Regions from separate parts of the Homo sapiens genome. Here region 1 is linked to region 2. Evidence: fine-mapped QTL for protein levels in blood plasma. A gene starts in region 2. The other region holds a variant in brackets. All regions are shown on one strand. Distances are between the middles of the regions. Region 1 overlaps KREMEN1 (kringle containing transmembrane protein 1). Region 2 holds the start of KREMEN1 (kringle containing transmembrane protein 1).

Region 1 (3,008 bases), 39 kb before region 2:
TAGGGTAAATTCTGGCCTCTCCATCACAGCCCTTCTCAGCTCAGTTTCATCAACAGCGGAATGAGAATCAATACGGACCTCAAAGGGTTCTTGTGAGAAATAAAATGAGATAATGTAAATAAAGTAAATACCACAAGGCCTAGCAGAATAGAATGTGCTGAATAAATAGTGTTTGTCATCATTATATACAATAAGGCTTTCATCATTCACCACACAAACAAGAACAACTTGCTGAATAACAGAAAAATAAAATAGGCTGATTTAAAAGACAAAAATCAAAGGCAGCCACCTCAGAAAACGGTTTGATTCCGGATATTAAAATATTAATCTCTTACATCTGTATAGCATACAGCACATTTTCACATAAGTCAGCTCACAGGAAGCTCTAGCCCCTTCAGGGAGGCAGGACAGATGATATTATTCCTACTGGACAAAGAAGAAACCAGTCTAACAAGGTTAAAGGCCTTGTGTGGGCACACATAAGGCAGAATGGAGAGCCAGGGTAAGCTCCAGGATTGCCGACTCCCATTCCATGGGTTTTTGTTTTTGTTTTTCATGTCTCTGACCCCTTTTCTTATAGGACCAGTCTGGGCAACTAAATGAAAGTGACTCCCTGAGACCTGAGATTCAAGACTGAATTCTCAAACACATTAGTCCCTCAACACTCTGTTCACCACGAGGGAAGCCTCTGCGGTCCCAGTCAGCCTCTGAGGGGGCCACTGCCTCTGACTTGTCCTGGAAAGTGTGGCTCGAAGTCTAGTCGGAGAAGACACGTCATGTTGCTTCAAAAGCATTACTACTCAACTGAGTGGATTTCTAGATCGTGTCCCACCCTTAGCGCTTCCCAGAAGCAGGGAGGAAAAGCCAATTTGAAAAAGGATATTTGTCTTCAAATTCCTTTTTCATTTCAAGCTTACTTTGAAATCCTTGTGGCTTGGTCATGCATTTTTCCTCTTACCAAAGAGGCTTCATCACTTTCAATTTTTAAAAAATTATCTTAACATACAAATGGACCCCTTGTTTATCTTAGCTGAGGCTTCAAAACTTGTGAAAATTAATTACAAATATTCAGATGTTGAAGATAAAAATTTTGGAGGAGTTAAAGAGAGAAGGTCCTCCATTCACATTAACCCAGGAACTATTGTTCTTTTACTATCATAAGAAACAACTGGGAAGCAATCAGGCAGGCCCACTAAACATTGTTACATTTGAATATAACTGTGGCTTCATTGTGAAGGTACTGCACACACCTCCATGGGGGCCTCCATGGCTGACAGCTGTTCTTTGAGAACCACCTATTACCCACAGCACCTTCTCAGAGCATCTGCTCCCATAACTACTGCTGGCTGGGGACAAGACAAAGGGCTCCATCCTCTGGCCACAGCTGCCTCACACTGGGGCCACCAGATTCTCTTTCTTAGGAAGCTGGAATTGGGATCCGCTCAGTGAATGCAAGCACTGAAATTGTAGGGATTTGTCAAGTAGGAGTTGAGGCAACCAAACTCAAGTTTGAGCCACGTGAGTGGATGAATGAGCCAATTCTGCTGGTCCACGAAGAGGAAGAAGGATGGATAACAAGCTGAGAGAGAGGCAGAGAAGGGAGATGAAGTGGCCACAGAGACAGATAGTGAAAGTCCCTGCTTTCTTTCTAGTTTCTTGGGATACAGGGTTTGGGTTCTGTGATACATCCCAATGGTCTTCAAATTGATTTCTTTTGCTCAAGTTAGCTTGAATGAGTTCTAGTCCTGGTAACCAAATCATTATCGAAGACAGAAGGCACGGCCATCATAGTAAAGGCTCAGTTTGAATCTAAATCTTCAGCTGGTAATTCACTAAGAAGCAGCCCTGACTATTATTATGTTTTCTATTCCACTGCTCTCACCAGATCTGGGATATTTGCTTTAAGAAACCAGATGCTAAGTTCTTGTCCTATGTCTTAAAAAACTAAAAAACTCTTTCCAAGGCTCTGCAGAGCTCCTTTTTTTTTTTTCCTAAGTAAAATCTGCTTCTTCAGAAATGATGTAACTCCTCTGCTAATTTTTTTTTTTTTTTTTTTTTTT[TG/G]AGACGGAGTCTCGCTCTGTCGCCCAGGCTGGAGTGCAGTGGCGCGATCTCAGCTCACTGCAAGCTCTGCCTCCCGGGTTCACGCCATTCTCCTGCCTCAGCCTCCCGCGTAGCTGGGACTACAGGCGCCCGCCACCACGCCCGGCTAATTTTTTGTATTTTTTTAGTAGAGACGGGGTTTCACTGTGTTAGCCAGGATGGTCTCGATCTCCTGACCTCATGATCCGCCCGCCTCGGCCTCCCAAAGTGCTGGGATTACAGGCGTGAGCCACCGCACCCGGCCTAATTTTTTTTTTTTTTTTTAATAGAGACAGGGTCTCACTCTGTTGCCCAGGCTGGAGTGCAGTGATACAATCATACTCACTGCAGTCTTGAACTCCTGAGCTCAAGTGATCTTCCCATCTCAGCCTCCCGAGTAGCTGGGACTACCAGTGTGTACTACCATGGCTGGCTAATTATTTGTGTATCTTGTAGAGATGGGGTCTCACTATGTTGCCCAGGCTTGTCTCAAACTTGTGGCCTCCAGTGATCCTCCTGCCTCAGCCTCCCAAAGTGCTTCTCTGCTGATTTTAAATGTCATTTAACTCTGTGTCAATACTATCTTCTGCCTCAAGGACCCCACACTGGTGCCTCAGTAGCTGATTTCTCCCCTCCATGGAAAGAAAAACTATGTACATCTGAGACGCTGCAGCTGGTATCCTACTTCTTTCAGAGCATCAACAGGTTAAGTGTGGATTCATCCACACCCTCAGACCCGTGACCGTAAGCTCACTGCACCCTGTGCTGTTCATCTGCAACTTCCGTTCCAAATCTGACAGCTGCCATCTTGGTCCAACCCCTTCTCATGATATGGCCCCACACTACCTCTGTAACTTTATTTCTAAACATAAACTTCCTTTTCAGTCACTCTGATTCTTCCAACAGTCTTAATTGTGCCCCCGAGTCTT
Region 2 (2,500 bases):
CAAGTCCTAGCTTTTTCGCTAATCCAAGCCAATGAGTAAACAAAGCAACTCTGAGTTTTCTTACACCAGCAAAATCCCATCCTTTCCAACATCAGTCTGTGACTTTGGGTGGAGAACCCAGAGGCGGGTTTTCCTACTCCTGCAGACTGGTAATAAACTCTTCCCATCCCTTTCACAAATGGCCTATGCTCAACACCCAAACAGCCTGCAGAGAAATGCAACGCCCTCTTGCCTTCTCTTCCACTTAGAAAGGATTCGGCTACAAGGTTGCGTGTGGAAGTTAAGCAAAAGCCAAGCTTCATCCTGGTCCAGGGCCTCACCTCGGGAAGACCTGGCCTTGGCCTTGGCCTGGGTAGTGAGTGACCTGTCTAAGGTGTGGGCTGACCCAAAACACGGAGCTCGGCGTTGCACCCTCAGGAAGAGCACCCTAAACTCAGTTGGGGAGAAGTTTCCCATCACTGCTTCCTTTTTTCTCTCCCCCTTCTGCGCCATCACCTGAGTCATAGGGAAGTTCAAAGCGGCCCAGCGGAGAGAGAGGGCACGTCCCGTCCGTCTGGGTACAAGGTCGTCCCAGGACCCTAACCTGCCTCTAGCAGGGCGAACAAGTCCATCCCGTTCCTCGCGAGGCAGAAGTTATAATGTCCGCCAAGCGGGTGCAGCCGAGGACTCGGGAAAAGGGGCTGAGCGCCGGCTCCTCCCGCCTCCGCTCTGCTCTGCGCGGGGAGGCGCCGGGTTCCACCGGTGTAGGCGGGAGGAGAGGACTGGGGGACGCGGGGGCGTCGCAGTGAGGCTCAGGGAGGGGACCTTGGCCCAGGGGAGGGATGTCGCTGGAGGTCTCGGAGAGGGGCGTATAGCCTCTTGTAGCGGGGGAGTCGTCCCGGTGCAAGGTGCGTCGATGAAGGACTTGGGGCGGGATCCCAGGAGGTACTGGGGAGCAGGGGTCGTCCCGGCCCGGGAGGGGTCGCTGGGGACTTGGGGACGGGATCCCAGGAGGTACCGGGGAGCAGGGGGCCTCCTGGCCCGTGGGGAGTCGCTGGGGATTTTGGGACGGGATCCTAGGAGGTACCGGGGAGCAGAGGACGTCCCGGCCCGGGGGAAGTCGCTGGGGACTTGGGACGGGATCCCAGGAGGTACCGGGGAGAGGGGGCGTCCCGGCCTGGTTGGGGTCGCTGAGGGACTCGGGCAGCGGGTCCCAGATCCCGAGACAGAGAAGATGTCCCAGCCCGGGGGGCGTCGCAGAGGGTCTTGGAAGACTCAAGGCGGAGAGGGCCTCCTGGGCTGAGGGGCGTCGCTGAGGAGCACCGGGTCCTGCAGCCGGGGGACAGTACCGGGCCCGGGGGCGTCGATGACGGGCCTGGGGGTAGCCCGGGTCCCAGGAAGGGACCATCCCGGCCTGAGGGGCGTCGCCTAGGGGCGAGGGGAAGGGGCCCGGAAGGTCCTGAAGCGGGAGGGAGGGGGCTCTCAGGCCGGCCGGCCCTTGTCGCCCCTCGAGTGGGCTCCGCTCAGGGCGGGCGGCGGGGGGTCGCTCACACTCACCGGGTCCGGGGCCGAGGCCGGGGCTAGGCGCGGGCCGGGCCGCCAGCGTGAGCGCCGCGGCGGAGAGCAGGGCGAGGCGGGCGGCTGGCGGCGCCATGGGCCGTCAGTGCGGGGCCCCGGGGCGCGGCCCGGGGTAAAGGGGGCAGCGCGGGGAGCCGGGGGCGGCCATGGGAGCAGGACGCGGGGCCCGAGTGTAGCCCCGCCCCGGCCGCCCGGCCGCCCCGCCCCGGCCCGCCCAGCTCAGCGCCGCCACCGCCCCTGCAGCCTGGGGCCCGCCCGGATCCGCGGAGAGGCCCGGGGGGCGGAGCCCACTGCGCACGCACGCCCCGCCCCGGCCGCGCGCTGCTCCTGCCACTCACGCATCAGGCCCCGCCCATCTCTCGCCTCACCTGGGCCGGCCCAGCAGGGCCCTCTGTTTGTCCCATCCAAGGGTAGGATCAGCAGGTGAGGGGCGGGGCCTCGGCCCGGCCTCCAAGTCACCAAGCGGTTTGGCCGGGCTGAAATAGGCCGGGCTCCCAGTGACCCCTGCTCCACCCTCACTTAGGTCGTGACCCACGCGCGAGCTCAGCTACAGCGGTAATAATTACAACAGCAGTTTGCAAACTGTTTTCCCTTGCTTAGCTCATCGTAATGGTTAAAAAAAGAATGCTTTGGAGAGTTCACATCCCACTTGGTCACATGTAACACCTTGGACAGGTTTAAAGGAAAAATAGCTCTTACCTCAATTTCCTCATCTGTTAAATGGAGGTGATAATAGCTGCTACTCCTCAGAGCGCTTGCACTAAATAAGAATGCCTACAGCCGAGTGCGGTGGCTAACAACTCCTGTGATCCCAGCACTTTGGGAGGCCGAGACGGAAGAATCGCTTGAGCCCAGGATTCTGAGACCAACCTGGGCAACACAGCGAGACCCCATCTCTACAAGAAAAAAATAAATAACTCAGTGGTCCCAGCTACTCAGGAGA

The links. A credible set is the group of variants that fine-mapping cannot tell apart. PIP is the chance, under the fine-mapping model, that this variant and not a neighbour inherited with it causes the effect. Protein levels are from the aptamer-based SomaScan assay of Sun 2018.
Region 1: its variant is the best candidate, but not a certain one, in a credible set for the plasma level of the KREMEN1 protein (Sun 2018, PIP 0.75).

The regions. Positions count from the first base shown.
Region 1 is chr22:29,110,667-29,113,674 of GRCh38, reverse strand. All of the region lies in intron 3 of KREMEN1 (kringle containing transmembrane protein 1), which reads right to left. Among named protein-coding and RNA genes, the nearest start is that of KREMEN1, 39 kb to the right of the region's middle. The variant TG/G (reference allele first, on the strand shown) is at 2,061.
Region 2 is chr22:29,072,264-29,074,763 of GRCh38, reverse strand. It overlaps KREMEN1 (kringle containing transmembrane protein 1), which reads right to left and starts at 1,729. Exons shown (of 9, transcript NM_001039570.3): 1 at 1,537-1,729. The coding sequence starts at 1,633. It also overlaps a transcript of C22orf31 not described here. RefSeq lists a silencer at 1,711-2,040.